7 linked regions of the Homo sapiens genome follow. The protein of the gene in region 2 purifies or fractionates together with the protein of the main gene of each other region. This does not show direct contact. Each region holds a gene or a part of one and is shown on either strand. Other genes may lie near its edges. The genes, in order: DMXL2, AGBL4, C5orf34, ESPL1, MTO1, PANK4 and DMXL1.

Region 1 (3,500 bases), on a different chromosome or scaffold from region 2:
AGATAGTGCTTGTGCTGCAGCAGCTTGGCTCACTGGCGGTAGGTGGAGGGCACACACCTTATGCTCCTAATCTGGGTCAGTGCCGTTGCGTGAACTTCTGACGTCTCTCCAAACTGGACACAGGGCTTGCAAGTACTATGGGATTCTTCTGTTGTAAGGACTGTAGATGTTTGTGGTGGCCATGAGGGCTGATGGGGATCTTCTGTTTACCTTTTCCCCTCTGCAATGAGAAGTTCTTCCTGACTGTGGGCAGATCCAGTCTGGGTGGGGGAGATAGGGCTGCAGAGGCCGGGTACCTCCACACTGCTCTCCTAGACTTGCAGTCACCACAGGTGCATCTCCACTCCCCTGCTGCACTCTAGTGCTCTCCCTTTGACACTCCAGTCAAATCTTAGCTGTTTATTCATTGCCTTGGTCCTTTCTTTTCGGAGGATGAATGCCAGGTGTGTCTAGCAGCCATCTTGCTGGCATCATTCTCTTGGTTTATTTTTATGGATGCTCAGATTGTTCTTTCACAAATGGGAACTTCTTCAGGTTTCTGAATTCTTCTGGCATTATTTCTTGATAGTTTTCTTGCTTTCTGGTACTACAAAATGTTTAAGGGTCATCTTGTACATTTCCTGCCCCAGACCTGGAAATGACCATTCCTCCAAAGCATTCTGCTTCCTTTTAGTGGGGAATAATATTTAGAAACTATAGTTTGGGCACCAGGATCCTCATTGGTACTAATCTTGTCATAATTTCTAGACTATTGCAATGAATGGAATTAGGAAATTTTTTTTCCTTAGAATTTAGGAGTTTACCCTGCTATTTCTCATGCACATATAGATTATAGGGTTCTTTCTTCTTAGATGTTAAGTTTGTGTCTTATAATGAAATGTTTGGATTCTCATGGCATGAACATAGTTATTTGCTATCTATGTGCATATAAGTTTCAGAATAATAATATAGATATTTTTATAATAACATGATTCTGAACATAATTTAAGCTTTTTTGCAGAATTTTTTTGTTTTATGGTACATTCTGCTAAGGATGTACAGTCAAATTACTTGTTTTTAACTCACTTTTTAGAGTTCATCTCTGTGTGATTATGCTACCAACTTGATAGACTGATTTGTTTAATTTTGCCTTTTGTGAATTGTGGTTTAGATTTGGTTTTATTTTAAAATTATGTAAAATGTTGACATGGTGTTAAAATAAAATATATAAAACCAGTGTATTTTCAGAGAAATCTAGCTCTTTTTTTCCCTGTTTTGCTCTCCCCTTTTAAGGAATCAATTAAAATTTTTTGTGTTTGTCTTCCATTTAAAAATGATAAGCCAATATGCATGAGTGTGTATTTGTATTTCCTCTTCACTGTCTTAGATAGATAAAAGGTAGCTTACTACATGTACTTTCTGCATCTTCTTTTTCTTAGTGTATCCTGGACATCACTCTATAGTGATGGGAATCACTCCGTAGCATATTGGGAAATTCTTTCTATTTCAGCTGTACAGTTGTAATGATTGTATATGCCATAGTGTAACCTATCGTAGGTTAATATTTACATGTTGTTTTTTTGAAGAAATGCTGACGTATTTTATTGTTTTGTAATGTAAATACATATTAACACAATGCTTTGTGATTTTATCTGTTTGATTTCTATAGTTATCATCAAGTCTTGTAACCCGGTGGCATTTAGTTTTTATAACTACCTTCGAACTCATCCTTTGCTCATTCGAAGAAATCTTGCCTCCCCTGAAGGAACTTTGGCAACCTTAGGTCTCAAAACTGAGAAGAACTTTGTTGATAAAATTAACCTCATAGAAAGAAAATTATTCTTTACCACTGCAAATGCTCATTTTAAAGTTGGATGCCCTGTTTTAGCCTTGGAGGTACTCTCCAAAATTCCAAAAGTAACCAAAACATCTGCCTTATCTGCAAAAAAAGATCAGCCTGACTTCATTTCTCACAGGATGGATGATGTACCTTCACATTCAAAAGCTCTGAGTGATGGCAATGGAAGTTCTGGCATTGAATGGTCAAATGTAACTTCATCACAGTATGACTGGAGTCAGCCAATAGTAAAAGTTGATGAGGAACCTCTTAATCTTGATTGGGGTGAAGATCACGACAGTGCCTTAGATGAAGAGGAAGACGATGCTGTTGGTTTAGTGATGAAAAGTACAGATGCCAGGGAAAAAGATAAACAATCAGATCAGAAGGCCTCAGACCCTAACATGTTATTAACACCTCAGGAAGAGGATGATCCTGAAGGTGATACTGAAGTTGATGTGATTGCTGAACAACTAAAATTCAGAGCTTGTTTAAAGATCCTTATGACTGAATTAAGAACATTGGCTACAGGTTATGAAGTAGATGGAGGAAAACTCAGATTTCAACTCTATAACTGGCTTGAAAAGGAAATTGCTGCCTTGCATGAGATATGTAATCATGAATCAGTTATTAAAGAGTATTCCAGTAAGACATATTCCAAAGTAGAGAGTGATCTGCTGGATCAGGAAGAAATGGTAGACAAACCAGATATTGGTTCCTATGAGCGCCATCAAATAGAAAGAAGAAGATTGCAGGCCAAACGAGAGCATGCAGAAAGACGAAAGTCGTGGTTGCAGAAAAACCAAGATCTCCTGAGAGTATTTCTCAGCTACTGTAGCCTTCATGGGGCCCAAGGTGGTGGTTTGGCTTCAGTAAGGATGGAACTCAAATTTTTGCTACAAGAATCACAACAGGTGTGAATATCACTTTTTTTTCAATCTTGGTTATTTCAGTAATTTCAGTAGCTCTTCCAGTTATAGCTATAAAGCTCTTTTACTACTTTTTACTAGTTAATCTAAATATGTTCAGCTCCTCTCTTTATAGGAGGCAGATATTTATACTCTATGTGTCTTAGACTGAAGTTTTGATAATAAGGAGTAGGCTTAACAGCTTGAGAGTATTCTTGTGTCATATTTATCTATATACCATCTACATCTAGCATAGTACCTGGTACATACTGGGTGCTCAATAAATTTGTGTAGAATGAGTGAGCGAACATATTCCCTTTACACAATGTTTATCACCAGTATTTCTGTCAGAGAACTGATAAAATTTTTTAAACTACTTTGAAAAAAATAATTCACTATCACCCACAGGAAACTACAGTAAAGCAGCTCCAGTCTCCACTACCACTGCCTACCACCCTACCTCTGCTTTCAGCAAGTATTGCGTCAACAAAAACAGTCATAGCTAATCCTGTATTGTACTTAAATAATCACATCCATGATATACTTTATACTATTGTTCAGATGAAAACACCACCTCATCCCAGTATTGAAGATGTGAAGGTAATGTAAAGTTTATGATCATTTGATATTATACACCCTGAGAAGGTAAATATGTTATACCTGTCTTTTAATTCGAACTTAGGGGAAATATTTCAAAGTGCTACCTTTCTCACTCATGATCAGTTCAAGACTATTAGTCCAATGAATGTAATTTAAAAGTAAGTGTTCTTACTTCT
Region 2 (3,500 bases):
CTTCTACCTCCAGGGAGGGGGAATTTGCAGAAATACAGAGTTCATTTCATCTAAAGTTCCTTCCTCCTCCCTCCACTTCTCTGAGAAAACTAAGTGTTAGGAAAGGAGACATAGATCAACCCGAAAACAAAGGATCAAGGAAAGCAGAATCTGCCACGATCTGTTACAGCTCTGATGCAGTGACCTTGATATTAAAATCAACACTCGGGAAACTAGAGTTACTACCTAATCCTTAAAAAATTAGGCAAACTAGAAAATAACTTCTAATTTCATCATGGAAGGCTTTGGAGTTTTCAGAGAAATTTTATGAAGAAACTAAGAGGAAAAGGAATTTGTCAAAGGAAATGCAAAGGCAGAGAGAAAGATGCACAGAGGATGAGAGGGGAAAGACAAGGAAGACAGAAGACAGGCAAAGAGGAGAGAAAGAAAAGGAGGATGGGATGAGAGAGAGGACAGAAAGGAGGGGAGGAGGGGGAAAAAGAAGTAAGGAAAGAGAAGCACAGGACAGGTGAGGAGGGAGGAGGAGGGCATAGAAGGAGAGGGAACAAGGGTGAGAAAAGTAAGTAGAAGGGGAAATAGTGAGTAGAGGGAAGAGAAAGTGGGAGAGGATAGGTTAGACAAAAGATGAAAAGAGAACATATGTTTTTGTATGTTCAGGGTTAGAAGGAGTCAAGATCATCAAGCTCTTCCTCAGCAACCCTGGGGATGGTCATCCAGCCTGTGGACTTGCATAGCTTAGATGGCAGGAGACTCACTGCATCATGAGAGAAGAGAGGGGAGAGAGATGGAAGCAGAGTAAGATATGGGCAGGCCATGGGTCCGGCTGGCCTGGGAAAGATTTGGAGCATGGCAATTGGGGTAGGAGTATCATACTAAGGGCTGAGGCAAACTGGACAATCCAAAGACGCCACCAGAAGAAGAAGCACCTCCATCCTCACCTGAGAGTCTCAGCCCTTACCTGAGCTGGGGGCCTAATTCCTGACCTGTCAGACTTGGATACTCTCGGCTGGATGAGGGCTGGCCCAAGGCTGGGTGGGGACTAAGGATACAGGCTTCTTCAGTGTAGGGCACAGCAGCCGTGGTGCCACTGATGATGTAGCTGTAGAAGGAGACCTCTAGGGTGTAGCAATAGGAAGTGTGGTCCAGGAGTCCACCGAGGAAGCGACGGCCAGTTCCTGCTTTCACAGCGTCCCGGTTAAAGGATGTGCTGGACTGTGAAAGACAGAGTAGGGAGGAGAGAATCACGGCACCTGCTGCAAATTGGATTGTGGGCAAATTTTACAACACCTCTGGGTCTCAGCTTCACTGTCTGAAGAGTGGGATATTAGCCCCTCATCACATGATTATTATAAGGACTGATTAAATAAACATAATTAATGACAGAAGCAAGCAGAGTTCTTGAGGTGCAGTAACTGCCACTCAACGAATATTTGTGGAAAAATGAATGGAGAGAGAGGGAGCAGGGAAAAGCAGACAGAGGAAAAAGAAGCAACTACATTTTGATGATAATCAGAACTAACATTTGGAGCCTGGCATGGTGGTGTGCACCTGTAGTCCCAGCTACTTGGGAGGCTGAGGTGGAAGGATTGCTTGAGCCTAGGAGTGTGAGTTCAGCCTAGGCAACATAGTGAGACCATGTCTCTATTCTTTTTATTATTATTATTTTATTTATTTTATTTTATTTTATTTTATTTTATTTATTTTTTGAGATGAAGTCTCGCTCTGTCACCCAGGCTGGAGTACAGTGGCGCGATCTTGGCTCACTGCAAGCTCCGTCTCCCTGGTTCATGCCATTCTCCTGCCTCAGCCTCCTGAGTAGCTGGGACTACAGGTGCCCACCACCACGACTGGCTAATTTTTTGTATTTTTAGCAGAGACAGGGTTTCACTGTGTTAGCCAGGATGGTCTCGATCTCCTGACCTCGTGATCCGCCTGCCTCAGCCTCCCAAAGTGCTGGGATGTCTCTATTCTTTAAAAAGAAAAAAAGTAAAACAAAACAAAAACAAAAATAAAACCCTAAAATTTGGGCAGTGCTTTCAATTGTATGATATTGTTTCCCATGCAGTATCTCATTTAGGCTTCAAAATAACCACTTGAAGTAGGTGTTCACATTTTATCTCTCTATAGATGAGGAAACTGAGGTTTCCTCTCTATAGATGAGGAATATGAGATTGCTCATAGAGGTGGAGCAAGTAAGTGATACAGCACAAATCTGAATCCAGAACTAAGTGACTCCAGACAACCAAAGAATCTACTTCCTTTAGGGATAGCTGATTCATGTCCAGAATCACTAGAGCATAGGGATCATGGCTGCTTCTTTACTAAGATGTTGACAGCACCCATCACAGTGGATAGAGAAATGAACAAGCATGTCACTCTCAAGTCCTCTGTTCAAAGACATGCTCTACTACCCACTGAGTACATGATGTCAGGCAAGTTGACTTACTTGTCTTAGTCTCAGTTTCCTCATTTGTAACTTGGAGGTGAAAATAATATCTCTTTCACAGAGTTGTGAGGGTCAGTTCACTTGGGGTTAGAAGGGCATTCTATGCTAACCCCTGGAAATTTAAGCAAATGAACAGACCATGGTTTTAATAAGAGAATACATGTCTTATTCGGCAGGAGATAAAGGAAGAAGGAAAAGAGATAAAGTAAACACCAATACAAGAAAGGCACAGAAAGACTGTGAAAGAAACAGAGAAGTGTGTGTGTGTGTGTGTGTGTGTGTGTCTATTTTAAGGTAAAGGAAAAATCAGAAAATCATAGAATGTCAGATCTGAAAGACCTTTGAAATCCATGTAGTAAACTCCAACTCTCCTGTTTTAGAGTTGGGCATTGAGGATCAGAGAAGAGAAGAGAAGAGAAGAGAAGAGAAGAGAAGAGAAGAGAAGAGAAGAGAAGAGAAGGGAAGAGAAGAGACAGCAATTGGACCAGGACAGATGACCTTGACTCCCACCCTTAAGGAGGCTGCAATGCAGAAACATCAGGCAAGCCCAGAAATAAGGCTGTCAGACTGTGCCCCTTTTGTAGTCCCTGGAAACTTCACCCACATGAGGAGGGTCTCTGAGGCCTATGACCCAGCCTTCCAGGGAACTTGGACTAAGGAGGCCACATTCTTTTCTGAAATTGCAGTGGTCTCAAATAGACAGGGCCATCCTATAGAGATTCTTACAGAAAAAGGTATGGCTGTTTCTGCCCCACAGCTGCAAATGGGGAGCTACCTGCTTTGATTCTATCATTAAATGCTGGGTGACCTTATGCTGAATACTCATCTTTTCTGGGGCCACTCTTTACTCTCAGGTGTAAAGAGGGGACTGGACTAAATAATCTGCCAATTCCTTTCCTGGTTTGACATTCAAAAGTTCTGGGATTCAGAGTGCATCTTAACACGCAGAGAAATTCATCATCTCCACTAATGTCCTGGCTTGAAGCAATGGGCAGGTGAGTTTTCAGCTCATCAACTTCAAAAATTGCTATGACCTTTGTGGGCCTCTGCCCCT
Region 3 (3,500 bases), on a different chromosome or scaffold from region 2:
ATACAAAAGTAGACAAATATAAGGGACCCCTATGTACCCATCACCCATCTTGTTCATTTATACTTCCTGCTTCTCCCTCCACTCCCTGTTTATTTTTAAGTAAATCCCAACCAAATATTGTTTTCTTCATAAATACTTCAGTATATATTGGAACAGATTCCCAACTGGGGCCTATTTCTAGGAAAATATTTAGTAAATACATATTAATTGAACAGTAACTCTTTGGCAGGCATTCTGGTAAGCACTGACAAGGATGAAGATGAAGAAGAGTTCCTGCCCTCAAGAGTTCACAGTCTTGTGTTCAGTTAGACAGGCAAACAAGCAAATGAGATACAAGCATGCCCAGTAACATGTATACGTATATATGTGTGTATGTGTGTTTATATAGTACATCAGACAATCAAGTGAGCAAGCAAATAGAGTAGGTATGCATAGTCATATTGCTGACTGCTGTATATCAGAGGGTGTGCAAAATTGCAAGATAAAAGGAGTGTGTCTTCCTGGAGCTTCAATTTTACTCAAAGCTGTTGCGGGAGGGGGTGATAATTTTTATACTAAAGCAAATATATCATGGAGTAGAAGCATGAGCTTTTGGGTTAAAACGCATTTGTGGTGGACTGCCTTGGGCTTCACTCTCCAACCTTTGTGTGCAACACCTTCACCTTTCTCTGTCTGTTTTAGTGCAAAGGTTTAGAAACAATTGACCCTCTTTTGGGGATAAAGTTGTTTGCTCCTTACTTTAACCCAGACTCCAAAATAAATTTCAGATGAATTAAAGAGCTAAATGTAAGAAACCAAACTTTATAAGTGTTAGAAGAAAATATAGAAGAACAATGTTTAAAATCTCTGGGTAAAGGAGGCCTTGTTAAGTAGAATACAGAAAACCAGAAGGCATAAAAGAAAAGTTTGACAAGCTTGAAATCTTCAAACTTACGTTAAATTATAAATATTTAGGCTGGGCACAGTGGCTTATGCCTGTAATCACAGCACTTTGGGAGGCCAAGGCTGGTGGATCACATGAGGCCAGGAGTTCGAGACAAGCCCAGCCAACATGGCAAAACCTCGTCTCTACTGAAAATACAAAAATTAGCCAGGCATGGTGGTGCTTGTGTGTAATCCCAGCTACTTGGGAGACTGAGGCATGAGAATCGCTTGAACCTGGGAGGTGGAGGTTGCAGTGAGCCAAGATCACACCACTGCACACCAGTCTAGGAGACAGAGCAAGACTCTGTCTCAAAAAAATTTTTTTAATTAAAAGAAAATTTTAGAATTTCTGTTAAAAAGATAAGCAAAAGCCCAGAAGATATTCCACACTATAAATCAGTAATAGACCAAAAAACCAAAATACCCTAATAGAAAAATGGGCAAAGGGTAAAAATGGATTTAGCCATAGAAAAGATAATGTAAATTAAAAAGTCATAATATTTGAAAACATATTCAACTTTACTACTTGCATCAGGGAAATGCAAATTAAAATATCAATGACATAACATTTTTCCCTTACCAAATTGCCAATAACTAAAAAGACTGATGACATCTGCTGGGAAGGGTGTGGGAAAAGTGGTGCTTTCATAGTGTTGGTTGAAGTGTTAATTGGTTTGGCTTTCTTAAAGGACAATTTGATAACATCAAATGAAATTGATGAGAAATTCTGCTTCTCAGTATCTAGCCTAGAGAAATATTTGCACGTGTTCAAAGAAGCACGGCCAAGGGTGTGTTTTGTGGCATTATTTGTAGCAGCAAAAAATCAGAAGCAACCTAAATAAATGTTCATTAATAGGGAAATGGTGAAATAAGTTGTAATTATCAAATTATGGGAATGGTGTACAGTAGTTGAAAAGAATGAGGTAGATGTCGATGCATACAGTAATAGATTCTGGAAGATCTCAAAGATCGGGTTGTTGAGCGAATAAAGAAACTTGCGTTAGAACACGTACAATGATATCTTTTGTGTAAAGAACAAAAAATAAACCCATACCTATATAGTACTTTCTGTAATACACATGCACAAGCACAAGTAAGGATCCTGGGCAAATACACACTGAAGTAGCTATGTTTGGGAAAGAGTGTGGGATTTTGTGAGGGAGGAGAAGTCTGAGAGGACTCAATTTTCATACTTTTTGAACTTTTTTTAACAAAAACTTAATGTATTATTTATTGTATAATTAAAAATTGAAATAGGAAAGATTGACAAGTACTCACAGTGTAAGTACTTCCATAGAGATAAGAACTTGGTGCTTTGGGACCACATAAGAAAGGGCACCAGACCCAGTGTTTGAGGCTCCAGAAACAACTCCTGAAGGAAAACTTGGCTAAGCTAGGATCTATAATTCCAAAGGAGGAGTTGTACAAAAGACAGATGGAGGTAGGAGGAGCATATAGCTAAGGGAACAATTTACTTTCTCAATTGTTTGCATGGCTGGCTTCTTGTCACTCAGATTTCTATCTAAATGTCATCTCCTCACAGACGCTTTTCCTGACTATTCAAATTAAAGAAGCTACCCAAGACACTCCCTATCATGACATCCTCATGTTTTTTCTTCAAAGCACTGAATATTGGGTGACATTTTCTTAATGATGTATGTTCTTTATCAGCTACACTAGATTTAAGCCCTATCTTATTCAACACATTATTATTGCTGCTTCTTAGCACAGTTTATAAATGGCACCTAACTGGACACAAGAGCCTGGGGCGAGTGTGGAGTGTTGAAGGAAGTGAAAATGTTGTAGTTTGGTAGGCCAAAACATAGATGGGATGCTGGGGGAAATGTCCAGAGAAGAAGCCAGATCACTAAGATGGCCAGCTCACAACTGGAGCATGAGTAACCTCACTGCATTTGGGGAACCATTGAATGATTTCAAGTAGGGAAGTGACATCAGATTTTTGTTAGATTATTTCAGAGGAAGATGAACTGGGTGGGGAAGAGGTAAAACTTGAAGCTGTAGAACCAGTCAGAAGACATGTATAGTAGTTCAAGTGAAGGCCAGGCAGTGGTAGGAAAAATGAGAAGGAATATTAAGGAGACAGAATTGATTGCTGACTGGACGCTGAGGATGAGGAAGGAGTTGAAAGGGATGCCAAATTATTAATCAATGAATGGTGGTGCCCGGTACTGTGTGAAACCAAAATTTTTATCAAATCTAAATTTTTTTGATGATGGCTTTTTTTTCTTTTGCGCCTACCATGAGATGTCAATTAAGGATTTGAGATTATTAAAATTCAACTATATCTCAACCCCACCTGCCTAATAGATTATAAGACACTCTTAATTGTAAGATGGATCCAGATTTCAGAGAGGTTAAATTGTGAAAAATGAGCATTTTAGAGTTGATGAAATAGGGTCTTGGAAATAAGAACCCAGAGGGAACTCAATATCCAGTAGAGAAAGACATAAATAATTAAAATATGGTATTTTGAGTGCTTCCCATGTGCTAAGCACTGTGCTAATAAATGATAATGATACAGACATGAGCAAAACAGACACAGCCCCTTCCTTCAT
Region 4 (3,500 bases), on a different chromosome or scaffold from region 2:
TTCGCCGTGTTGCCCAGACTAAAGCTAACATTTGAGCATACCATTTACACAATACCTCTTCCATGCACTGCTGCACTGAATAATAACGCCACGAGGCAGTAGCATGGCCCCTATTTTAGAGATAAGGAAACTTGGGCTTAGGTTAAGCAACTTGCCCAAGGCCATACACTAATGAATGAGGGAGCTTGGATTTAAAATAAGACTGGTGATACAGCCCTGCGCTTCCATCACTGGCTTTCATGGCTTCTCAGGAGGATCACAGGCCAAAGAAGGCGAGGGAGCTGTTTCTGGTCTAGTCCTTGTTTATATGGGTCCCCCTCAATGCCCCACCCCATTACCTTTGCCACCAGCTGGTAGAGGGCTGCTAGGATCTGCAGTGAGGCTGCTGTCTGCTGGAGACACCGTACAGCTGGGGCCTGCCCCTTTGTAAGCAGCTCCTTCCACAGGGCCAGGGCTTGGTCCAGGCATTTGGACTGAGCTGTTAAGCCAGAAGAAAATGACTGCTGTCTCAGCATGGGCCATCTGGAGAGAACTTCCCTTCCTCCATAACATCCTCTGCCCTTTACGCCAACCTCCCACTGCTTCCACAACCTCCTACCCTACAAGGTCAGGGTTTCCCTCACCAGGGGTCCCTGTTCCACTCTTAGGAAGCCATGGAGATGCCCATGCCACACTCCATTTACCCCTCACCAGCATCTGCAGCCAGGTTGAAGGCAATGTTACTGTATAGGAAACGATCTTCCTGGAGTTTATCTTCATAGTTCAGGTCATTGACTTCAAATTCCTCCAAGTTACCAGGGGCCTGGGCTCTCCGATCCCGCTCGATACCCTGGATGGGAAGATCGGGGTATAAAACAGGGCACAGTGGTGTGGGCCTATCGTCCTGGCTACTCGGCAGGCTGAGGTGGGAGGATTGTTGGAGCCCAGGAGTTCAAGACCAGCCTGGGCAACAGAGAGACCCCATCTCTAAAAATAACGAACAAAAAAAAGGGCTGATACCAACTTGTTGGGGGCCCAGGGACAGTAATTCCTACACCCAGTTCTGGTGAGCCCCACAGCAGCCACACTCACTTCCTGCATTTTGGCTTCCAGAGTACAGATGTAAAGCCACAGCAAGGCCTGTGCTTTATCGTCCAGAAGCTGATCTCTGGCCTGGGCCTCAGGCCTCACAGAGTCCAGAAGCTGCAGGGCTTCCCGGATAGCATCCAGAGCAGAGCTGCAGGGAGAAGATGTGCTTAAGCTGGGCCTACTATGAGTATCTGCCATAGCGCCCTGGGAAGGGCTAGCTGCAGAACAGCTGGCCTCGCCCTTTGCATGTGCTCCCATGGCCACAAGATGAAGGGAGAGCTCAGGGCTGTGGAGAGGGAAACTGGTTCTCAAGAGGGTGAGAGGACCTAGGGCAAGGAGCAAGAGTGGCCTCTGCAGCTACTACTCCTTACCAGTTGGTCTGCTGCGTAAAGTCGTGGTAGCAGAGCACCTGAGCCAGTTCTACCAGGTGGGTGGCTCGTGCCCAGGCCCCGGCTGGTGTCTCCTCGGGGCTCAGCTCCAGGAGGTCACAGATGATGTTGAAGCGTTCCTGTCCAGTGTCGGCCCGCACCGCCTTGTAGGCCTGCAGCTCCTCCCTCAGCAGGAGGGCCAGGGTCTCCGGGTCCCAGCCACTGAGGCTGTCTCGCAGAGTCCTGAGAGAGGGCATGCTCAGCACCAGGGTGGAACCCAGGAGGCATAAAGCCTCTGCTACCTGCTCCCATGCTGAGGAGCCCCAGCCTTGGCTTGCTCAGTAGGTTTCCAGTCATGGCTTTAAAAATTTAAATCAGATTGCATTGCTCCTCTGTTTAACAAACGGCAGTGGGCTCCCACTAGGAATCATTTCCAAAGCCCTGACCATGGCCTATAAGGCCCTGTGTGATCTGGCCGCTTCCCACTTTGACCACCTTCATTCCATATGGTTCCCCATCCTATACCGCTATTCTACTACCCCCAGCATGCCGGCTTTCTCAAGCATGGTCCCAAGTTTGTTCCCACTTTGCAACCTTTGTATTTACTACTCTCTCTGCAAGGAATTCTCTTCCCTGAGTTTTTTGTTTGTTTTTTTTTAGACAGTCTCACTCTGTTGCCCAGGCTGGAGTGCAATAGCGTGATCACGGTTCACTACAGCCTTGATCTTCCAGGCTCATGTGATCCTCCCACTTCAGCCTCCTAACCAAGTGTAAATAGACTATAGGTTCATGCCACCACATTCGGCTAATATTTTTTAAGTAGAGTCAAGGTCTCGCTTTGTTGCCCAGGCTCCCTGAGATCTTTACAAAGTAGATTCCTTCACATCCTCAGGTCTCATCTATCACTTCTTCAAAAAGGGTTTTCCTAAATAACCCACCTCAAGTTGCTCCCTCTTTTAGCAAATCAGTTTAATTGTCTTCATAGAGCATACGTGAAGGCTGGGCGCACTGGCTCATGCCTGTAATCCTAGCACTTTGGGAGGCCAAGGTGGAAGGATCACTTGAGCTCAGGAGTTCAAGACCAGCCTAGGCAACATAGTGAGACCTTGTCTCTATTAAAAAAAAAAAAAAAAAAAGGAACAGACACAAAATGCAAAATGTACTTTTTAAAAATATCTCCCCAAGTAGAATATAAGCTCCATGAAAGCAAGACCACTGTCACCACTATACCCCCCAAGTAGCACAGTGGCTAGCATACAGTGGGCACTCAATGAATAACTAATGAATGAAGGAATTAGTATTTTTCAGACATAAAGATGAAAGGACATGACCATGAGTACCAAAAGCCACCCTATCCATGGGAGAAACATGGTTGACCCCCTCCCCAACTCACTTTTTTTTTGAGATGGAGTCTCCCTCTGTCACCCAGGCTGGAGTGCAGTGGCACGATCTCGGCTCACTGCAACCTCCGCCTCCCGGGTTCACGCCATTCTCCTGCCTCAGCCTCCCGAGTAGCTGGGACTACAGGCACCCGCCACCACGCCCAGCTAATTTTTGTATTTTTAGTAGAGATGGGGTTTCACCGTATTAGCCAGGATGGTCTCGATCTCCTGACCTCATGATCTGCCCGCCTCGGCCTCCCAAAGTGCTGGGATTACATGTGTGCTGGGATTACATGTGTGAGCCACTGTGCACGGCCAATGCCCAGCTAATTTTTGTATTTGTAGTAGAGACGGGGTTTCACCATGTTGGCCATGGTCTCAAACTCCTGACCTCAAGTGATCCACCCGCCTCGGCTTCCCAAAGTGCTGGGATTACAAGCATGAGCCACTGCGTCTGGCCCTCAACTCACTTTAGCTGTAGCTCCTTGTCTCCAGCCCTGGCCGCATCCATCTTGACCCGAACCCAGAAAGTGACTGGCTCAGCCATGTGTTCAGGGCTACAGGGTTGCAGGGCTGCCAGCCACAAAATCACCATCTTGCAGCCCTGGGCCTGTTTACCCAGTTTCTTCAAACTCTCTACTTGTAGCCGGAAGCACCTGTGCAACTGACCAGAGAAAGGGAA
Region 5 (3,000 bases), on a different chromosome or scaffold from region 2:
GGAGTGCAATGGCGCAACATCAGGTCACTGCAAACTCTGCCTCCCGGGTTCAAGCGATTCTCTTGCCTCAGCCTCCTGAGTAGCTGGGATTACAGGCTTGTGCCACCACACCCGGCTAATTTTTGTATTTTTAGTAGAGACAGAGTTTCACCATGTTGGCCAGGCTAGTCTTGAACTCCTGACCTCAGGTGATCCACCCACCTTGGCTTCCCAAAGTGGGTGGATGACCTCTGGGATTACAGGCGTGCGCCACCGCGCTCGGTCTATATTCACCAATTTTAAGATGCACATCTTTCCATATTTTAGTATCTCTAAGTTGGAGTATGTCTTACAATTAATGGCATCTGACAGTTATAACTGGCAGCATTTGTGACTGAAAAACATCTTAGATGCAATGAAATACAGTGTGTGTGTTTGTATTGTGCTGCAATATAAAATGTATTTCAGGCCAGGTATGGTGGTTCACACCTGTAATCCCAGCACTTTGGAAGGCCAAAGTGGGAGGATCACTTGAGCCCAGGAGTTCAAGGCTGCAGTGAGCTCTGATTATACCACTGTACTCCAGCCTAGGCAACAGAGCAAGACCCAGTCTCTAAAAAATAAATGAAAATGTTTCTTATTGTGGATCACAGTCAAAAGTTTGAAAAAACACAATCTGTTTGAACAGCACTACTTTCTGACAGGAAAACCCCAACAGGTTAGGATCTGTGTATTCCTCAGAGTAAGAATTTTTCTAAAAAGTTTTTAAAAACTTAAAGTCTTACTGATCTCTTCCTATGCTCCAATTTTATAGATATAACTTAGCCTTGCGAGGTGATGTAATTAAAGTCTAACTTCAAGTTGCTGTTGAGCATAGATCTCAGGTCTTCTGACTTCACAACACCTTTCTGCCACTTTCAGTGGATTTTTCCCTCCTAGGGACCAGAGGTCCTCTACTGGATTAAAAGTTTCTCCATCCCGGCAGGGTGCGGTGGCTCACGCCTGTAATCCCAACACTTTGGGAGGCCAAGGCGGGCGGATCACGAGGTCAGGAAATAGAGACCATCCTGGCTAACATGGTGAAACCCCGTGTCTACTAAAAATACGAAAAATTAGCCGGGTGTGGTGGTGCGCGCCTGTAGTCCCAGCTACTCGGGAGGCTGAGGCAGGAGAATGGCGTGAAGCCAGGAGGCGGAGCTTGCAATGAGCCGAGATCGCGCCACTGCACTCTAGCCTGGGCGACAAAGCGAGACTCTGTCTCAAAAAAAAAAAAAAAAAAAAAAAATTCTCCATCCCTTTTGAACAATCTGGAAGTCTGTTTCTCTTAACCTTCAGTTCCCATTCCAATCCTTTGTAACCTATTTCAGGTTAAGCATTTATGGAGGTGCCATGCTTAATTAGCCATTATGGCACTCACTCTATTTCAAAGGTTATCCCAGAATTTGGAGGCTGTAGGGGAATTCAGAGTGTGAATTTCACTTGAACAGCACCCTCTGCAGACTTAAAATATTCCTCCTATATCTGAAGACAATAATAATTTCTTAGAATTTGCTAGGCTAAACAACTATTTTTTAGTCCAGTGGCTTGTAATTAAGTCATTTTTAGTCTTTAATTATGTTGGTTGCTTTTAGAATTCTCTTTTAGAGTTGGTCTACATCCTTTTAAAACATGGGCAATCCAAATTTATAACAGTAAATTAAGATACATAAAAAAAAACACTGGCTAAATTTAAAAGGAAACACTTCTAGAATATACTGTATTTTGACACAAGACCAGACTGTGCTATGTGTATGTGGTGTTTCAAGTAATTTAAGAAAACTGTTGGAATTTTCTGTATTTCCAGTTTCACAAGAAACAACCTCAAGGAGGGCAGTTTAACTGAAAATTCAGAGGTATTATAGCTCTGAAGAAAAATACTGATGAGCAGTTATACAAAATGAGAAATTGAGTTCTAAGAAATGCATCCCTAACTTCAACATAAAGATAGCTATGAGAAAACATTCTTTGTACCCAACCATAAATGAATAAAAATCACCTCATTTCTCATCAGATGTTTACTGGGTTGCTAGTTATATATAGAATCCTGCAAGAGGCTCAACAGGGAAGTCCAAAGAGTCAATCAAGAAGGTATGATAATGGCTAAAGATGGGGACTGTAGGTCAATGCTCCACGAGGTTCTTCTTTTGTTGCACCAATATAGCTGCACTGTTATACCCATATGGTTACAATCCAGGCCTCAGAAAATGTTGCAGATGCCCTCACCAGAAGGCTGAGAACCAGTTCCTCAGTTTGCATGCCTCCAGACAGCACTAGAAGTCAAACTCAAATTGCTTACATGGTAACTTGGTTTATCCCAACACCAACTAGGATATTCCCTCAATCACATGATTGTACTGAAAATATAACCAAGTTTTATTTATGTTTTTCATTTGGTATTAGCCATCTGGTATTTAACCTCTGAAAACCACACAATCTTCTATACGCTTTTTTCACTGGAATAAATGAAACTGCTTACTTTTGACTTAAGTCTATTTCGCTTTATACGAGCAATAACCCATATTTCGGACAATGTCTCAAAAGAGATTGTGTTAAAGGAAAATCCAGGCTGCATATTGTGCTTTTATCTGTTTTGAGTTAGCTTTAAATGTAAAGTTTGACAAAAGCAAAACTACATGAACTCTTTTAGGGAAACCATGACTGGCTAAAATAGAAACTTTTAATTCCTAATACAAAGATTATTTACTCCCACTTTGACCTTATAACTCTAAGTGGCAGAGCAAATTACTTTTGTGTGCCCAAAAATGGCAAGTAAATTTAAAGCTATCACCTTCTTCACCTTGCTTTTATTAAACATTTGATAAAATTTTCACAATTGCCTTGTGATTAAAATTATGAAATATGGCCTATGTTATAGTATTGTTAGGTAAATTTTCAACCACTTGGCCCACCATAATCAAGTAACAATTCTCTAGTGCAGTACCACAGACCTCTTAGATTTACTTTGTCTAGTACTTAAAGTAA
Region 6 (3,500 bases), about 46 Mb from region 2:
ACACCTGCCAGGCGCAGCCTGTTCCATACCACGCCCCTCAGGATCGAAGACTCAGGCCCAACTGGGACCCCACCAGGCACAAGCCTATCGGTCCGGGACAGTGGCCAGCGCACAGCTGCACGGGGCTCTGAGGACGAGGCCCAGGACAACTTCAGCCCCCATGTGACTGAGCAGTGGGTGAAGGGCAGGACAAGAGTGGAGGACACGGCCCCCACAGGTACCCACAGCCCTGGCCTCAAAACCCTCGACACCCAGACTTCCGCTGTCACAAGGCTCGGCGTGTGAGGGGAGGGAGGCATGGCGCTGGCCCTTCCCAGAAGAGGTGGGAGGAGTCCATGCCTCCGCTGCTGCCCGCTGCCTCCTGGCAGAAAGGGCCAAGGAGGGCTCTGGCCGCCAGACTTGGGGAAGCAAAACGGACGCCCGGAAAGGCCCACCTTGCACGGCCCTGCACGTTGCCGGGATAGGAGGCCTCTGGTCACTGTCCAGCCTCCTAGGAGGGAGCCAGGGTGGTCCAGGGTTCCAGCCCCTCCCCATGAGGGGAAAGCAGTCCCCAACCACAATCGCCCACCCTCACAGAAGCTGGGAGGCCCTTGGCTCCTGCAGGCAGGCAGCCTGTGTCTGTCAGGAACACATCCAAACTGGGGTTCACACCCTTCTTCTCTAGTCACAGCAGTCCCCACCCCTAAGTGGCCCCAGCATCTGTGGGGGTAACACAGCTCCTCAGCAGATGCTGCCAACAGAGGCCCTGGCTATTGTGGTGCCAGGGCTGGAGTTGGGGCCGCTACCAAACCTGCATGGCCTCAGACAGGACAGGATGCCCCGAGCCAGCGGGACAGAGACAGGACACGCGGTGCCAGCGGGACGGGGACAAGAGCGAGCGGAAGGCCAGGGCACACTGCACTTACTTTGGAGTAGGGATCCGGGAAGTTGAACTCGTTCAGACAGTGCTCCCTGGTGTCCAGCAGGCTGCGCACGGTCAGGGTCCCATAGGCGCTGGGGACAGACACGGCAGAGGGCGCTGAGCAGGGCAGGCCGAACACCCGCCCGTCTGCCATCCTCGGCTGTGCCACGGACGTCCTCAGGAGCCCGGCAGTGCAAACGCTGCTTGAGGCGGGGTCCAAGGGGGCTGTGCCGCCAGGGCCCACACCCACCCCCAGCGAGCTGGGGTCCGAATGCCAACATCACGGCACTTTCTCAGAGGTGCAGGGGCCCTCTGGATGGAAGAGGTGGCCACACACCGGGGTGCTGGGCACTTACAAGGGCTGCTGCCTCAGGGTCTGAAGCTTGTTCCAGTACTTCTGCCGGAACTTCTCCGCCCTCTCGGCTGCATCCACAGAGTCTGGCTGGCTCGCCACTGCGCGCTTCACTACCTGCCAGCGACAGAAGGAGGGGGTTAGTCAAGCGCTGGCCCTGCTGCTTGCGAATCCCCACGTGACAGCAGGGGGCTCGGGGAAGGGTGGGGGTCGGCCGTGGGGGACTGTCTGGGGCAGGGTGGGGGCGGCTGTAGGAGGCCTGGTGCAGGGTGGGAGCCGGCTGTCGGGGGCTGTTTGGGGCAGGGTGGGGGCTAGCTATGGGGGGCTTCCCGGGGCAGGGTCAGGGCCTGCTGTGGGGGACTCGGGCAGGGTGGGGGCTGCCTGGGCTGTGGTCAGGGCAGTTTCTACTGGAACAGGAAAGGCTGACGGTGACAGTTCACGGTCACCCGAGGCTTCCCTTTGCCATTCGCCCCTCCCAGTTGCCCTGGGAGGCAGGAGCAGGAGTGACCTTGGTCCCTCACCCCCCAGGAAACCCGAGGCCAAGACCCACGTCCTCAGACTCGAGCCCCCATCCTGTGCCGGGGACGAGGGGCTCTGGGCACTCAGAGCTCACTCCGGGTCCTGGGCAGGGCTGGGACTCCTCCCTCAGGACAAACCCTGGCACGACCCGGCCTCTCCGAGGGCTTCGTGAAGAGTGCGTGTTGCTACCGGGGCTCCCTGGCCCCGAGCTGAGCTCCTGAGGGGCAGCGTGGCCCAGGGCCTGGCATTTGCTCCACGGGACCAGCCCAGCCTTGGAGAAGGTGGGACGCAGGAGTCCCAAGGTGGCCTCGCCGGGAGCTTGCTGGGGCTGAGTCTCACCCCACCCCCAGAGTCAGGGTCCCACAATGCCTCCCGCACCTCAGTCACACCTCAAAAGAGCAGAGACGTCTCCTAAATTGCTTTTTGAAGGAATGTGCTAGCTAGCAGAACTATCAGCTGCCCTTAGAAGCAACGTGCCTCGCAGACGCCACGTCCTCACTGACCCACCAGGTGGCCAGGAGCGGTATTTTTGCCTGAGAAACCAAAATCGCCCCCTCACTCAGACGCAGATCAAGGGGTTTCTGGACAACACTGGCCTGTCCCCCTTCGCCACCTTGGCTTTGCCCCCGGAGCCTTGGAAGGTTAACCCGGCTGCGGCCTTGGAATCGTCTAGACGGCACCCGGAGCCCTCACCCCGTCCAGGGCCTCCTCAAAGCAGGTGAGCCAGTATTTTCGGGCCAGAGCGTCATCGGTGAGGTCCACCGTGTCGGGCACGTAGGAGGGCGGGTCCAGGAGGAGCGGCAGGTCAACCAGTGGCCTCTCCAGCCGGTCCATTTCCAGCAAGTCAAACTGGAAGACAGGCAGTGGCAGGGTGGAAACGTCACCATGGTTCAGAACGACCCAAGCCACACTCAGAAGCTTCCACTCTCTCTCTAAGAAGGGAGATGTACTGCCTTCTTCCGCCACGTCTCTGGGCCACAGACGAGACCCCCACTGGGCCCCCTCAGCTGCCCGGCGGCCTGAGCCGGATACCTTGACTTACCCCCTGGTTTGACACTGGGGTTGCGTCTGCTCCCACCACACGCCTCCTGCCCCCAGCACCTCCCCGCTGCAGCCACACCTCCCCAATCACCGCTGCAGTCACCCTCCCATCACCCCTCCTCCACCATCCCTATAGTAACTCCCTCCCCCATCACCACCTCCCTGCAGTCACCCCTCCCTGTCACCCCTACAGTTTCACCTCCTCCCGTGACCCCTGCAGTCACACTGTTCCCACCTCTGGTCCTCCAGGTGGCCGTGTCTGCACACAGAGGTTTGGGGTTCTGTCCTCACTAAGCACCAGGCAGTGTTCCACTCCGTGCCGGGCAGGGAGTCCCCACGCCCCACATGCACCCTTCTTCCTCCATGGCTGCCGGGCCTCCCAGCACGTTCTGTCCATGAAGGACTATGGCAGGGCCAGGCCATTATGCACCCAGGGCACCCCGGGGCCACCTGCACCCAGCACAGGCGCGCTCACGGGCCCTGCTGGCTTTTTCTACCTTATGCCGGGAGGAAGTGAACTGAACTGAGCCGACGCACACATCAGTACTCGGCTCTCTGCACGCTCACCGCAGCAGCCGCTGCTCTGGGACCAGAGGGGCTATGAGGGGAACTGTGTAGCTGACCGCCTCTTCCCACCCTCCGGTGGCTACCCCACAGGTCACATGCTGGCCCTCTGCCCTTCTCCAC
Region 7 (4,195 bases), on a different chromosome or scaffold from region 2:
GCCTTTTAACATGAGAGAAGAAAAAAGGGCGATTTCAAGAGAGAAAAATTTAAGGTGTATATAAGTGTCCAGGATAATGAGCGTAAGCAACTTAAAGAGTCAAGGATGAACAGGCTGCAAAGGAAAACCATGACTGTTAAATCCTTAAAATTCCATCAAAACTAAAGAGAGCTGAACTCTCTTTATACTTAAAAATTTATTTTTAGTTTATTTACTGAATGCTTCCAGAGACCTGGAAGAAATCTGCAGTAGGCTTGGTGGGAGATTAAATCCTACTCAATGGAAATGAACTTTAAAATTCAGCAGAACTGAGCAACAAGCTACATGATGGTACAGGATGACCATCTATCTAATCCTCCTCGGCACATTAACTGATCTCTCCTTAAAAACAATACACAGACATTCACCAAGGTTTTATAGAGGAATGCATCCAGGTATATAAATAGGCCATCATACTGCATATGCTTTGAAGTTCACACCACTGCTTACATAGATTGTGAATGCCTTCTTAGAAAAAATTCTTAGGGCTGGGCATGGTGGCTCACGCCTCTAATCCTAGCATTTTGGGAGGCTGAAGTGGGAGGATCACTTGAGCCCAGGAAGTCAAGACCAGCCTGGGCAACATAAGGAGACCCCTCTCTACAAAAAATAGAAAACTTAGCCAGCCGTGGTGATTAGAATCTGTAGTCCTAGCTCCTCAGGAGCCTAAGGTGGAAGGACGGCTTGTGCCGGGGAGGTCGAGGCTGCAGTGAGCTGTGATCCCGCCACTGCACTCCAGCCTAGGTGACAGAGGGAGACCTCATTTCAAAAGTTTTTAAAAAGCAAAAGTTCTTAGAATTTACACTGGAGAAAGCACTCATATAAATTTAGGAAATGACAGAGAATGCAACAATATTATCCTATAATTTCCCACTAGGAAAACCTTCTAAGGATGATGTTTACTTTCCTCTCAAGCAGCAAGAGCAGAGAGCAATGCCCAGGTGTAAGGAAACTATAGTTGCTCACTGGGACCCTCAGAGCTCACTCTTTTCCCAAGTATTCAGGCTGGGCAAACATTTAGAATTGGAATCCCGATAATTAAGATGTGTATGAGTCAATCTAAAGGGGAGGTACAGTCTCTATTTGAAAACAAAATGCTTCTTGGCACAATTCTAAAAGTACAATTCAGGCATTAAATGCCTCCACCATTTTAAATGCTGAGTATTATTTATTCTGACCAACAAAGACCACAGAAAAATTAAAAGCAGAGAAAAAGATTAGAAATTTAACACTCCTAAACCTGGGGCATTGGTTACGTTGTTTACTTTGTGTCACTTATACAAAATTAAGTTTTACTTTTATTTTTTTTAAAGAAAAAAGCCTACAGCACTTAGTATTCCCAGGCAGTGACAAGTTTTACTTTTAATCACAACTAAAGAGGTATCTACACAAATTGTAGCAAAAATCATTAGCATTATAAATTTATGTAGATAAAAGTATCATGTGCAATTACTGACTTATATTTTGAAATTGTTATTAAAAAAAAACCTATAGTTAAGGTAGAAAAATGCCACTATACTGACAAGTAGCCCGAAATTTGGTGCCCTCTTCTTGTCAATATGTGACCAATGAAAAGCAAGTTAAGCAACCTTAACCTGGGATTACCAGGTTATTGTAAAATATCCAAGAAATATTTTTAAAAATGAAAAGGCTTTTTTTTCTTTCCGAAGTTATTTCTCAGGGAATTAGAAAAGAAAATAAATGAAAAACACTGTTCTCAAGGCTAGTTGTTGATGGCAAACAATTGGTAATTGTTTTGAGACACCCACTTTTTAACTACAAAGATACTTGACCTTAACTTAGAATACAAAATGAAACCAATCTCCACTATTCCTAAATTTGACAATTTGAACCTATAGAATGGTATAAAAAAGCCCCCAACTCGTTACTCAACAAAGATTTTTGAACAAACGACTTTGGCAAAGCACCCTGGCCCAAGGCAGACAGACCAAAAACTTTAAAAATCCTACAAAATATTCTAACTTGAGTTCAGGCTCCATACAGTACCTCACTGACCGACATGGTTTTGCTTCCTTAGTTCTCAAGGGCCAGGTCTGCTGGGTTCTGGGTGGTAAGGACCCCCCTGGGGAGACAAGACCTCGCGCCTCTGCCCGTCGTTCTGGGCCAAGCTCGGCCCAGAATGACGGGCAAAGGCCGGGCCACGGGCGACGCGAGGGCCTCCCTCACTCACCGTGAAGCGCTGGTCGCCAATGCTGCCCACGGAGAAGCAGTGGTCGCCAGGGTTCACAGCCCCGGTCAGCACCTGGTGCAGGTTCATGTCGGCGCCCTAGTCCTGCAACGGACACCGCATCCAGCTCATGCCACGGGTCAGCGGCTGCTTCCCTCCCTCCTTCCCTCAGGGGCGGCGGCCGCTCTTCGGTGGCGACGGCAGAAGCAGCGACAGGCGCCTGGAGCCGGAGCCGCTCAGCTGGGGCCCGCGACTCATCCCGAGCCCCGGAGGGCGAGGCCCGGAGGGGGCGGGTCGGCGAGAGGGCGGAGCGCCGCGCTCCTTCGCGCACCTGTCACTCCCCGCGCTAGCCCAGGTGAAGCTCAGGGTCCCCTCACCGGCCACGACCCGGGGCCGACTCACCGGCCAGGAAGGCCGCGCTGTCCACACACTTCCTCTGGACCTCGGGCAGCCGCTCCTGACCCAGCCCGAGTGGCGCAAGCAGTACGCGCTCGCACTCCCCGCCTGACCTGTCCCTTCCCGGCTCCGGTGCCCGCCACCCCCACAGTCCTCCGCCACTCACTACGCGCCTCTGGATCCCTGCGGCCGAAATATCGCGAGACTTCGCTCGGGGCAGCTGCTACTGTGGTAAAGAATTCACTTTTTTACCACAGCGTGCGTATCAGCAAGTGAACATAAAAACGCCTCTTCTAGTCAGAAACTGGCCAATCCCGACCCCCGGTCCACCTAGGGCTCCGCCCACCACCGAGAATAAGCCAATCTCTTTGAGGCTTCTACAGGAGAACGCCGTGCGTTTGAGCTTGAACCTGATAAGCCTGGCAGAAGCCTGATGAACCCAGAATGAGTGAGATGTGGTAAGTTGTGCTTTAGGTTAGGGCGTCATCTAACTGTTGGGCCAGAAAATTTAAAGGGGAGAAGTGCATCCTAAAGGGAGTTGCAGTTTCCTCGGTTCTGGTAGGACTACAAGTCCCAATATGCACCGCTCCCCCGGGCGACCTGAGTGTCTCTTGAGTAAATGTGACCCTTGAAACGTCTACGTTAGCAGCTTAATGGTTTCTCCAGCCTTGCGCGTGTTTCCAAGTCCCTAAACGGGATGGTTTTTGAAAGGCTCGAACACTTGACAAGTAGGAAAGTGGTATTTTCTTAGCCTAAGTTATCTTAACACGTGATTTGAAATAGTGCTGGTAATAACAACACACCAGCCCTGCATTGAGCGTTTGTTTTGGAAAAGAACCTAGGAATTCCAGAATGATCAGAGTCACAGCTACAAACTGAGATTCAACTCTCATTGTATTTTGACACAAGTTTTGTATTATAATTGACAAACATCTGTTTATATGTCTCCCCCTGTATACCGTAAGCCTCTTTGGAATACAGAGGAACAGGACACAAGTCTGTCCTTAATGTCTAGCACCGCACCAGTCCCACCCATTCAGGGTGTTCTGTAAATGTTGCATGAATGTGTATAGAAACTCTCCAAATAGGCCAGGCACGGTGACTCACGCCTATTATTCCAGAACTTTGGGAGGCCGAGGAGGGTGAATCACGAGGTCAGGAGTTCGAGACCAGCCTGGCCAACATAGTGAAACCCCCTTCTCTACTAAAAATACAAAAATTAGCCGGGCGTGGTGGCTCCCACCTGTAATCCCAGCTACTCGGGAGGTTGAGGCAGGAGAATCACTTGAACCCGGGAGGCAGAGGTTGTAGTGAGCCAAGACCCCCGTTGCACTCCAGCCTGGGTGACAGAGTGAGATCCCGTCTCAAAACAAACAACCCTCAAAACTCTCCAATAGGCCAGGCACGATGGCTCACGCCTGTAATCCCAGCACTTTGGTAAGTCGAGGTGGGGGCGGGGGGATCACCTGAGGTTGGGAGTTCGAGACCAGCCTGGCTAACATTGTGAAACCCAGTTTCTACTAAAAATTAAAAAATTAGCCTGGCATGGTGGCACGCGCCTGTAATCCCAGC

Evidence for each region.
Region 1: the proteins of AGBL4 (region 2) and DMXL2 purify together in Homo sapiens (affinity purification with mass spectrometry; one large-scale study listed by BioGRID and IntAct). This does not show direct contact.
Region 3: the proteins of AGBL4 (region 2) and C5orf34 purify together in Homo sapiens (affinity purification with mass spectrometry; one large-scale study listed by BioGRID and IntAct). This does not show direct contact.
Region 4: the proteins of AGBL4 (region 2) and ESPL1 purify together in Homo sapiens (affinity purification with mass spectrometry; one large-scale study listed by BioGRID and IntAct). This does not show direct contact.
Region 5: the proteins of AGBL4 (region 2) and MTO1 purify together in Homo sapiens (affinity purification with mass spectrometry; one large-scale study listed by BioGRID and IntAct). This does not show direct contact.
Region 6: the proteins of AGBL4 (region 2) and PANK4 purify together in Homo sapiens (affinity purification with mass spectrometry; one large-scale study listed by BioGRID and IntAct). This does not show direct contact.
Region 7: the proteins of AGBL4 (region 2) and DMXL1 purify together in Homo sapiens (affinity purification with mass spectrometry; one large-scale study listed by BioGRID and IntAct). This does not show direct contact.

Annotation. Positions count from the first base shown.
Region 1 is NC_000015.10:51,479,772-51,483,271, reverse strand, and holds part of DMXL2 (dmX-like protein 2), read left to right. Parts: intron 1-1,648; coding exon 1,649-2,730; intron 2,731-3,132; coding exon 3,133-3,324; intron 3,325-3,500. UniProt on the Homo sapiens protein: May serve as a scaffold protein for MADD and RAB3GA on synaptic vesicles. Plays a role in the brain as a key controller of neuronal and endocrine homeostatic processes.
Region 2 is NC_000001.11:48,585,955-48,589,454, forward strand, and holds part of AGBL4 (cytosolic carboxypeptidase 6), read right to left. Parts: intron 1,213-3,500; coding exon 1,050-1,212; intron 1-1,049. UniProt on the Homo sapiens protein: Metallocarboxypeptidase that mediates protein deglutamylation of tubulin and non-tubulin target proteins.
Region 3 is NC_000005.10:43,498,149-43,501,648, reverse strand, and holds part of C5orf34 (uncharacterized protein C5orf34), read left to right. Parts: intron 1-3,500.
Region 4 is NC_000012.12:53,274,799-53,278,298, reverse strand, and holds part of ESPL1 (separin), read right to left. Parts: intron 3,483-3,500; coding exon 3,289-3,482; intron 1,680-3,288; coding exon 1,440-1,679; intron 1,217-1,439; coding exon 1,072-1,216; intron 830-1,071; coding exon 691-829; intron 479-690; coding exon 339-478; intron 1-338. UniProt on the Homo sapiens protein: Caspase-like protease, which plays a central role in the chromosome segregation by cleaving the SCC1/RAD21 subunit of the cohesin complex at the onset of anaphase. During most of the cell cycle, it is inactivated by different mechanisms.
Region 5 is NC_000006.12:73,506,737-73,509,736, forward strand, and holds the end of MTO1 (5-taurinomethyluridine-[tRNA] synthase subunit MTO1, mitochondrial), read left to right. Parts: 3' UTR 1-2,500; downstream 2,501-3,000. UniProt on the Homo sapiens protein: Component of the GTPBP3-MTO1 complex that catalyzes the 5-taurinomethyluridine (taum(5)U) modification at the 34th wobble position (U34) of mitochondrial tRNAs (mt-tRNAs), which plays a role in mt-tRNA decoding and mitochondrial translation.
Region 6 is NC_000001.11:2,513,097-2,516,596, forward strand, and holds part of PANK4 (4'-phosphopantetheine phosphatase), read right to left. Parts: exon of another isoform or gene 2,982-3,500; intron 2,622-2,981; coding exon 2,466-2,621; intron 1,371-2,465; coding exon 1,258-1,370; intron 994-1,257; coding exon 906-993; intron 1-905. UniProt on the Homo sapiens protein: Phosphatase which shows a preference for 4'-phosphopantetheine and its oxidatively damaged forms (sulfonate or S-sulfonate), providing strong indirect evidence that the phosphatase activity pre-empts damage in the coenzyme A (CoA) pathway.
Region 7 is NC_000005.10:119,069,692-119,073,886, reverse strand, and holds the start of DMXL1 (dmX-like protein 1), read right to left. Parts: upstream 2,801-4,195; 5' UTR 2,318-2,800; coding exon 2,231-2,317; intron 1-2,230.